Regions from separate parts of the Homo sapiens genome. Here region 2 is linked to region 1. Evidence: fine-mapped expression QTL. A gene starts in region 1. The other region holds a variant in brackets. All regions are shown on one strand. Distances are from middle to middle. Region 1 holds the start of PTPRD (protein tyrosine phosphatase receptor type D). Region 2 overlaps PTPRD (protein tyrosine phosphatase receptor type D).

What was found. PIP is the estimated chance that this variant, and not a neighbour inherited with it, causes the effect.
Region 2: its variant is fine-mapped to the expression of PTPRD in pancreas (GTEx, PIP above 0.99).

The regions. Positions count from the first base shown.
Region 1 is chr9:10,610,311-10,615,698 of GRCh38, reverse strand. PTPRD (protein tyrosine phosphatase receptor type D) reads left to right here and starts at 2,697. Exons shown (of 46, transcript NM_002839.4): 1 at 2,697-3,011; 2 at 3,194-3,301. PTPRD-DT (PTPRD divergent transcript) reads right to left here and starts at 2,493. Exons shown (of 3, transcript NR_110696.1): 1 at 2,273-2,493. RefSeq lists a silencer at 2,543-2,752.
Region 2 is chr9:10,338,395-10,343,782 of GRCh38, reverse strand. PTPRD (protein tyrosine phosphatase receptor type D) reads left to right here. Exons shown (of 46, transcript NM_002839.4): 3 at 2,766-2,820. Among named protein-coding and RNA genes, the nearest start is that of PTPRD, 270 kb to the left of the region's middle. The variant G/C (reference allele first, on the strand shown) is at 2,548.

The DNA.
Region 1 (5,388 bases):
TTCAGATAGGTTACTGATTTTTAAGAGTAAATATATGGCAATAACTTAAAGCGGACATTTGCATCTGCCTTTTTATTGAAGAAGGAGAAATAAATTATAATGTTACAGGAAGTGTAGCTAGGTAGTTAGATAATAAAATTTTCTTAACTCCTTAAGCTTGGTGCAATCACCTTCAAGTAAGATATCTCAATCCAATTCTCAGATGTAATTAATAATAAAATCTCTACAATAAGCTAATCCATTGAACATTTGTGATATTATTATGTGGGGAGGAGGTAGGAGGAAGGGGATTGAGTATAACACTGATTCTTCCATTGTTTAAAATATTCTTTGTTTTCCAGAGGACACCAAAGGATAGTTGTACAGGAGCAAGAGTAAATCAGCCCCAGGGAGCACTGTCTCTGTGAGATCCCAGCCTGGAGCTGAAGTAGAGAAGAGTTTCAAGTTGCTGAACACCCCCATGCAGCAGTAAAAAGATATAAGATATCGACACGCTCAGCTGCATCTTGTTAAAAGCTTCCTGCGGGTTGGCAGAATGAAATCTTTACTTAAAACACACAAACTATTGTCAAGGGAAAGATGGAAAAGAGAATACAGTAAAAGGGCCAAATGCTTTGCTTAACCCACCAGAAGCAGTAGAAAGGGAGAGGTGGTCACGTTGTCTTTGCAACAACAACAACAGAAAAGGTGACTAACACAACCACATCAGCCTCCATCTGCTCTTCCCATGGTTTCAAGATGCATTATTTCTTTTATTATTAATTACTTGTGTTTCTGAGGGAGGACAAATATATTATTGTGACTAGCAAGAGAGGAAATCATTTCTGCTTCTACTTGGCATTAAGTACAGTAGTGTATGTAATGACTGAGGGATGGCAGGAAACAGAGCGGCATCATTGAGACCAGCCTCCCTCCTACCAATCCACTCCAACTCGCCCTTGGTAGTCAGAGGCTGCCTAACAGAAAGTTCATGTAAAACCATTATTGAACACTGACAGGAAGGAACTGAGACAGGAGTGAGTGGTGTGTATTTGTGCAGAAAGGGAGAAGGAGGGAGGGAGAGAGAGAGAATATGAGTCAGTCATCATCATCTTGGGGAGACAGCACCGTAAGAGGGGCAAGTGCTTTGTATAATTACAAAAATATGTACACATGCACACACACTTGCACATATGGTGTAATTTTTTTTCGTTCATATCTTGTCATTTCCAAGAACCTTTTTAAGTGATGATGACTGTTTGTGCATGGGAACCTTCTTGGATGGGTAGGCTCCGTGGCTTTAGGGAGGCTGAGCAGGGAACCCGGCAGCGCGTGGGTTCAGGAGAAGGGTCCCTTTTAAAGAGCAAAGGGACACAGCAAGCAGTGGAGAAGGTATGAAAAGAAAAAGGTGAAGGGACCCTGGGGAAAATTCCACCTATAGTGACTAAGCTTTATTTCTCTTCGGGAGAAAGTGACATTTCTGCGATTAGATCATTGACATATAAGGAAAGTAGATGGATAACTGGTTTTTCGTTGTTCTTTTTTTATTTGTTTTCTTCTACAGTGCTTACAGAACCTTTGACCAGATGGTACCTGGAATGCTCTGTGTTGCATATTACAAACAGGATAATTATTTTGGCTTTTTAGAAAACGCACCGACATGGTGACATTGCTCTCTGTTTATCAAGAGACAGAGCATTTGTTGCCTATAGCTGTATGCTCTGATGAGACATGAAAGATAGTAAAATGACAAAAAGCTTCCTGCTGTTTTTCTCTCATCCTGCCCCTTCTTCTCCCCCCAGCTCCAAACCTTATTTCTAGTTTCGCTGGGGGTCTAAGTTCCTCCTCCCCTGTCTCCCGAGTCTGTGGTACACCACATCTGATGCACTCCGATACCCCACTCTACCTTGGGGTAAGGAGGAGGTGGGGAAGAATCCGCTCCCTGCATCCATGTCCTCTCCTCTGCAGCGAGGCATATTCTCAGCAACTCTTGTACAGGTTTTCCCTTCTCAGCTACCACCTTGGCAGAGCTCTATCCCTCCCTCAAGCCCAGCCAGACTGCCAAGCGCCCCGACTGAAAACTCCATCCAGCTCAGCCGAAGTACACCCCCTCCGCCAAGCAACCCCTGTGCCCCTGCCCTTCACCTCCCTAAGTCTGCTCTTCATAAGCATCGATTCCATTGCAAATCAAATGTACGTCCCCCAGCTATTAACACCCACTACCCCTTAGGTGTTACCGACAGCCTCCCTCGGAAAATAATAATAATAATAATAACCGAAAGCACGCGAACACCTGAAGAAGCACAGATCGGGATCCGCATCTGGACCAGTCCTCTGTGGCTATAGTGATGGGGAATAGCCTGTGCCTGACATATCCTCCTGTTCCCGCGCGAACCGCTTTACCCTGGATCCCTGGAATCGTGCCTAGGCACCCGGGCGGCGGGGTCCGCCCAGGCCGCGTCAGGCAGCTCTGGGCCGGTGGGTGCCGGGTCTCCCCTCCTCCCGCCCCATCTGGCGCGCCCGCAGCGCCGCCGCCGCCGCCGCTTCTCTCCCCAGCGGGCGCTCGGAGCATCCCGCGCCGCGTTCTCCCCGCCCCGGCCCCCGCCCGCCGGAGCGGGGCCCACGCCGCTGGCAGCCATCAAGTGGCTCGTTAAGGAAATGCAGGTGAGTGCGTGAGGCCGAGCGGCAGCTGCTGGAGACGTGGGGTGTGTGCCTGTGAGTGCGAGCGAGACGAGGAGGGAGCGCCAGCGAGCGAGCGAGCGAGTGCGGGAGCGGCCGCCTCGGCTCCCCGCCCAGCCGCGCCCGCAGCCGGCGGCCGGAGCGCGTGGGGGCAGCGCCTCGCCCCGACAGAGCCTCGCCTCCTCCTTGCCGTCTCGGCTGCTTCTCCGAGGAGCCGGGAGCCGCTCATCGGCCTCCCCAACCCTGCGCTCCCCTCCCAGCCCGAGTCCTCCCGCTGCTCTTTCTCCTCCTCCTCCCGAGCCTCCTCCCCTCCGGCGCGGCGCCGCCAGCCAGCCTCGGCGGGGAGAGTGCAGGTACTTTGCCTTCAGAATAATTAGCAGGACCCAAGCCGGCTTTCCGAGCGCGCTTTCTTTTTCTTCCTTTGCCCCCTCCCTCCGGAAAAGAAGATCCCACTTTTGAAACAATCAGAAATCGAAGCACCCCACCAAAGCCAAACCCTGACGGGCTGCTGTGCATGTGCCATCCCTTTTTGCAGTTTATTCTGGGCCTGTGTGGAATAGAAAGACAATTCTTTATTTGACTGGTAGGAAAGAAAAGAGAAGACTCCTCAGGGTTTCCAAGGAGGACTGGAGCGGCTGCTTTAGTAAGTAAACTGTGCTTCTGTCTTTCTTTTCTCTAAAGTGAAGCATATGCTGATGCTTTTCAATGCCCAATGTCCAATGCTGTGGACAGTTTATTCATTTTACCTGGGAATAACTTGACTTATATAACTTCAGTAGCTCCTATTTGAGAAGTGGTTCGCTAAGCATTTTTTTCTTTTTTTTTTTTTTTTGGAAGAGCCCTTAGAAGACTTCGATATGGGATCAGTATGGGCAGCCTTACTGGAAAACTGATTTTTAAACGTTTATTGTTCAAGGGCTATTGGAAGCCTGCTTTGTTAAACATTGGTTGGTTCTAAGATTTAAGGGTGGTTATCTAGAAAAAGCTTGAAAAATCTAACCCTACTGGCTCACTTCTCCTGCCACCTTCAACCTCAGCCCTAATCCATGCTAACTCCCACCCTACTCTGACTTCAGTTGGTTGGTTGTTTTATCTTTAGTTCTGAAAAGCTCTAGAAAAAAAAAGGGGGGGGGGGCGGAAAAGGGAAAGTTAATAAGGATGGTTTGAAAGACCAGATGAAAATTCTGTTGCGATTTCTTCATGCCTGTAAGGAGATAATAATTGGAGGAAAATCCTGGAACTAGAATAGTTGGAGAATTAGAATGAACTTAATTTGGAGAGAGAATGTGAAAAATACTTTGGAGAGGGCAGGGCTGAGACTGTGACTTTGACACAGCGGGTTATAAACTCTGACAGGGCTCAGCAGCCAGTGACAGGTTTAAGGTGTCTCCTAAGGCTGAATATCTCTGCATCAAAAACTTTTGCAGGCAGTATTCCTCTTGGGGCTAACATCACCATGTCAGTAGCTGTAGCATTTCTTTTTACAGAAGTAGGACACTCTTCTTTCTACAAAAGGGTTAATAAGTTCATTATACATATATATAAAAAACATGTAGTCTAACATTTGCCAATATTTTGTAATATCTAAATAAAACCTTTGTGTTATGTCAGGAAAAATATAGTTGACTCAGTTTGTTTTGCACAAGAGGGAGAGAATCAATAACATTTCAGCATTTTTTTCTTTATCACTGCCAAATGGATTCTGAATCTAATTCTTCTTGCATTGTTACATATACAGTAGATACAGTAGGAGTTGCAACTTAGACAAAACAGACCTGATTTTTAACAAATCCTAAGTTTTTTGACATGGTAGTACTTATACTGACTAGAGTCTAATAGTGATTAGAAAAAGTTTATCCCTTTTATCTTTAACTGTTAATTTCTTTCTCAGTATAATACATACTTTTTAATAAAAACCCCTTATAAGTTAAAAACCAGATTGAAAAGTAAAAGTACTTATCTCAGAGAATTTCTTTCAATAAAGCAGCTTATTATTAATTATACCTAAGGGCTTCCTTGTATTTAATTGTTGATAATGGTAGAATGAGTATATTTTTACCTCCTTATTTACTTAAGTGAGTATATAAAAGCATCTGTATTCATGGGGGATTGGTTTTAGAAATTATAAGAGTAAGCTAAGTTACAATTATTACAAAAAAGTAGAGATGTTTTAGAGTTGTTTTGATTACTCAGTGTTGAAAGCTCTAAATATCTTGGGCCATAAGTTTTTAGGGTAATGAGACAGGACAATAGAACAGTTAATGAATTGGTTGACATGAAGTTATCATATATGGAATCATTTGAGAAAGATGTGTCATTGTTTCTTGATTATTATTTAATTTCTTATCCAAATGAGTTTTCTTAGACATATTACTGCTCTTAGCTAACATTTCTATTATTGGTTTAAAAATGAATTTAAGTGATTTAAAATGAAGCCCTTGGCTGATCAGATTTGGATTATAGCACATAACCTCTACTCATTTCTGACCTCACATGTCCGAGAGGCTATCTGATATTTGGAAAAAAAAAAACTTAATTATTGAAAAATAAAGGGGAAGATTGTACCTAAGTAGGGCAAATTTAACAGTGGTTCAAACATGTTATTACATATATTAGTATAGGACATATTTTACACAGTAGAGAAGACATGACAGATTTGTGCATTCTTTTTGAATTTCTGAAAGCAAATATTTGTAAGTAACATTAAAACTAACCTGACATACATTCTGC
Region 2 (5,388 bases), 270 kb after region 1:
TCAAAAGAAGACATTTATGCAGCCAACAGACACATGAAAATAATGCTCATCATCACTGGCCATCAGAGAAATGCAAATGAAAACCACAGTGAGATAACATCTTACTCCAGTTAGAATGGCAATCACTAAAAAGTCAGGAAACAACAGATGCTGGAGATGTTGTGGAGAAATAGAAACACTTTTTCACTGTTGGTGGGACTGTAAATTAGTTCAATCATGTGGAAGACATTGTGGCGATTCCTCAAGGACCTAGAACAAGAAATACCATTTGACCCAGCAATCCCGTTACTGGGTATATACCCAAAGGATTATAAATCATGCTACTATAAAGACACATGCACATATATGTATATTGCAGCACTATTCACAACAGCAAAGACTTGGAACCAACCAGAATGTCCATCAATGACAGACTGGATTAAGAAAATTTGGCACATATACACCATGGAATATAATGCAGCCATAAAAAAGGATGAGTTCATGTCCTTTGCAGGGACATGGATGAAGCTGGAAACCATCATTCTCAGCAAACTAACACAGGAACAGAAAACCAAACATCGCACGTTCTCACTCATAGGTGGGAAGTGAATAAGGAGATCACCTGGACACAGGGTGAGGAACATCACACAACAGGGCCTGTCAGGGGGTCGGGGGCTGGGGGAGGGATAGCATTAGGAGAAATACCTAATGTAAATGAGGAATTGATGTGTGCAACAAACCAACATGGCACATGTGTACCTAGGTATCAAAACTGCACGTTGTGCACATGTACCCTAGAACTTAAAGTATAAAAAATAAAAAGTGTGTAACAAACAAGAGGTATGGAGGTCAGGCTATTTAAATGGAGAAGATACTTTATATTTAAACAGTCATTTTCAGAAATCCAACCTTTTTAGTTTGTTCATTCAAAACATTTATTTAATCTCTGGATGGACATATGCTGGTAAGTAGATAATATAGAGGAAGAAAACACACAAGCACATTATTTATCTTAATGGAATTTACAGTCCAAGGGATTGCTTAACTTACTTTGCTTTAGTCTCTGAATGGCTTATATTCATTCAATAGTTATACAGGTATATGCTGGAATTTATTACATATAAAACACCACATGGAATAGAAGGTGCGGAAAATTAAGAACAATAAAATAATATACTCTAAGTAAGTGTATTTATACATTTGAGGACAATACTTTGACTCTTTATTTTTAGATTAATTCAAATAATTTACCATGAAATATCGATCCTGTTGTGTTTTCTAGTGTATAATTAGTTGTTATATAAATTTTTCTATTGCTACAAAGATTCAGTAACAGTCATCGTTCTTTACAATGTTGATACATTTATCATATCTGAATTAAGACATGTTTTATCCTAAATGTATAGAAATGTAAAAAGGCAGGCAATAGTATTGAAGTTTTTAGAGCTATTAGAGTGCTTATTTACAAACATGTTAAATTTCTTCTATATTCTATTTGATTAAAAATGCTTACTATAATCTTGAATAAGCAAAGTAAACAAGTGAAGAGGATTTGTTACCTATAAGTGACACAGGCCAGTATCAAGGGCGCACTCATGATGTGGACAGGAGTCAATACGATCTGATGATCTTCCAGTGAAATGAAAGTGAAGTCCATACTAATTAGCTTATGAATCAGATTGATACTCAAGTTTCTTTGGGCCAAAAAGACTACCTACTGTCAAGCAATCAAGTGCTATCCCTTTAATTGCAATTTATTCCAAGAACCACAATTTATTGATCCTAGCATACACTTAAGCCACAGCAGTATCATTATTTGACTTTATTTTAACAGCTTCAAAAGGTTAGAAAGCTAGAAACCACTGTGAAAGATACCATTAAAAAGTTGAGTTGCTAAGATTGCTTAACACTCTATGCTGAGTAATATTAACAATACATATGGAACTACATAAAAGGAGAGGGGAAAAAAGAATTAATATTACTTAGGAACTCAATATCAGCTGGTGCTTTCTATATCAAATATCCTTTAATAATAACAAACAAATGAAAAGAAGACCAAATTGCTATTTTCATTTTACAGATAAGCAGCAGTTTAGAGAGGTTTTGTAAATAGCCCAGAACTATAATGTTACAATGTTAAAACCATCTATCAACTCTAAAGCCACATGTTTCATTTCTTACATGATTTCTTGCATAATTTTTGCATACTGACCATTCTACAATACTGTGGCCATCTTGACACATGCTTAACAATATTGAAAGTGTGAAGACATAACTCATCCATATGAATTTTGCACCCAATATTATCTTTGAAACGCAAAACATTAATGTCTGATCACTCTAATTTGTTTGCTATATTATCTTTTATGAGCCACATTTTTTTCTTTATTCAATCATTAAAGTTGTATAATTTCACTTTATAATTTTCAGCTAATTAGACAATGTACTCAGCACAATTCTTGGAGCTTCAAAGGCTATTTTTCTTTAGGTAATATTCTGTGACTATAGTGGCCTAGCGTTTGGCATTTCTTGTATGTACTTTCTGAGTAAGCCTTAGTAACTGATTAA[G/C]TGTTACAATTTTTCATGAATCTGCTGTTAACCATGGACAAATCAATACCGAAAGTTGGAGGTCCTAGATTTTCTCCTTGTATTATTCAGAACAACTCTGCTTTTAATGCTTTCAGTTTTTGTACTTCCATACAATTTTATTCACAGAATGAAGAAACCAATACTTTTAAAAATTAATGTAAAATAATGGATCTAGCCCAATGTCCTCATTTTTGCAGGTGAAGAAGTGAAGAATCAAGGAAGTAAAGGACCTGTCTCAAAGTCACACAACTAGTAAGTAATATCTGTGAACTAGAAATAGATAATAAGAAACTGAATTCTATCCATTGCATAATAATAGCTTCTCATTTGAGAAATAATATTTAAAACATGAAACCATGTTCTTATCCCTGCTTAAATCACATATGGTCAGTGCACTAATGGTGTGCCACCTGGATTTAGTCTTGCTATACACTTTGGAGAAATCTTCAAAGTGAATTATGGAATCTTCTGACAGTATTGCTCATGAGATGTTGGCATCCATTTGAGGACTTTCCATGTCCTAGATTCTTAATGTGAATCATCTTATTTAATCCTCACAAAAATATTGTAAGAAAAATGGTTTTATTTCTGTTGTAGAAAGAAATTAAGGCTCTAGGATGGTTGGTAGTTTATCCAAATATGTAGGGCTATTTAATATCTGAGCTAGTTTTTAATTCTGAATATTTCTGACTTTGAAGATGTTCACCTTTGGCATCATACAATTTTGTACTTAAACCAAAAACAAAAAACAAAAAGAGACCAATACAAATAGTATATAATCTCACACTGGTGTGATATAGCCAGCTGTGTGATACAGTGCATAGTTCAAGGTGCTAAGAGAAAACTAAATCGTGACAGATCCACTTGGGTTGACCCTGTATATGCTGTAAAGATTGGTATGCTTTTGCTATTGACTCCCAGCTAGCAATTCTTTGAAAACTGGTCGCTATGAGAACATTACATATAATGATATTTGTAAACATGGGGAAAAACATTGACAACAAATGTACATAACCGTATCACAGGTAGACATTGAGAACTTGTCCAGATAATGTGGAATGAGCATTTAGAAGACAGAGGCTACTTTAACTCTTGTAGTATGAAATAATTATTGAACAAGTAATTAGCATTTTTTTGGATGAGATGTATTTATGTGGAGTTATATAAAATCATTTTCTTTAGAGAGGAGAGTATGAACAGAAACCTGAAGGTGGAAATAAATAGGGATATATTGTCAATATGGCATATGCTAAATCAAAGAATATAGTTATGAAGAATAAGGTGTTATTTCAGAAGGTTGGAGTGGGATTTGTTGATGGAAGCTTTTGAAGCTCAATTTTCAAAATTATATTTTTACTTTATAAACAAGGAGATATTGAAGGTGTTGTTTTGTTATTATTGTTGTTTGTTGGTTCTAATCTGTACATTGCTATCATCAGAGCAATGTGGGGAGTGAAAAAATAATGAGACCAAGGTTTCCTGTTAATCTCTTAAAGATAACAGGACTTCTCCCCACACCATTAGCTGTAATCACCCGGGTTTCTATAGCAACTTTGAGGAGGTCCCAATATCCATTTTCATCCCAAATGCCCTTTTCTTCATAAGTATTGGTAGAATGAATAAATTCCCTTTCTATCTTGCCGATCCATCTTGAAAATCCCTGTCAAGTAAGGGAGAGAATAGATATCATGATAGCTTTTTATTATCCTGGAATCTCATTTCTTCCAAGATAAGAAGTCTTTCAGAGTGAAAATGCTTTTTGTGCTTTGAAGATTCCTGTTTACCTTAAATTTGCACTTCAGATGAAGGGAAGGAAAAGTAAGGGATGCTTACTTTTCTCTTGAAGAGCAAAACAAACAGGAAGAAGGTGTGTTATGCTAAAGCATTTTGATTGTATAACAAAAGAACAACAATGAAAAAGCCTTTATGCAAATTAAGACTGATTTAGTTCCTAAAATGTCAACTGCATGGTTGTAACACTTATAGAAGAAAGTGGTCTGAAAATTTTCTGCCCTAATGTTAGATGACCAATATCAACTTCTCTCCTAATGAGGATTCCTTTTTAATCTTCAGGACTCTCCTCATTTTACAAACCTTCTTCCAGGACTTACATGTATCCACTAATAAAGCTAAACAATACCACCTGGATACTCTGCTGCTTATTGTCTATGATCTTGCAAGTAATGACAGCTGAACTCTGAACAATTTACTTTGTTCTTGCTCAGTTGAATTTATATCCATGAATCTTTCTTCTGTGTTGGAATTTTTTTTTTTGTCTACATTATATTTATGACCCCAGGTCCTCTTTAGCAATGTACTCTATTTAATTTATATTCATTTATCCTATAAGCTATATATCTGCTAAGCTTATCCATTCTATATTGAATCTCTCCTCACTTTCTTAGAGAAAAATATGTATTTTTTTTCTCCTGTTCCAAACATGGGCTATCTCTCTCAAAAGCAATGCCTTTGCCATTAGAGTTCTTTTTGCTAAGTCAATACATATTAACAGTTTTGAGCTTCTAAGAAAGCAGCACTTTGACGTAGGACCTATTCAAGTAAATTCTATATATAAGGTTTGACATTTCCTTTAGCCAGGTATTTGCAATAAAAAGATGAGTACAGTTTGGGGTGGGAAAGAAAGATAACACTACACCTTTATCTATAGATGTGATAAAAGTCAAAATAGGCCAACCTTGTGGGGTTTTGGGATGAACACTGAATACCCACAGTATGTGCTGGGCACACAAAAAATTATTTGTTGAAATGCATTATTGGCTTGTAACTGACAGGTCTTTTGTCAGTTTCATTTGTCTGCGT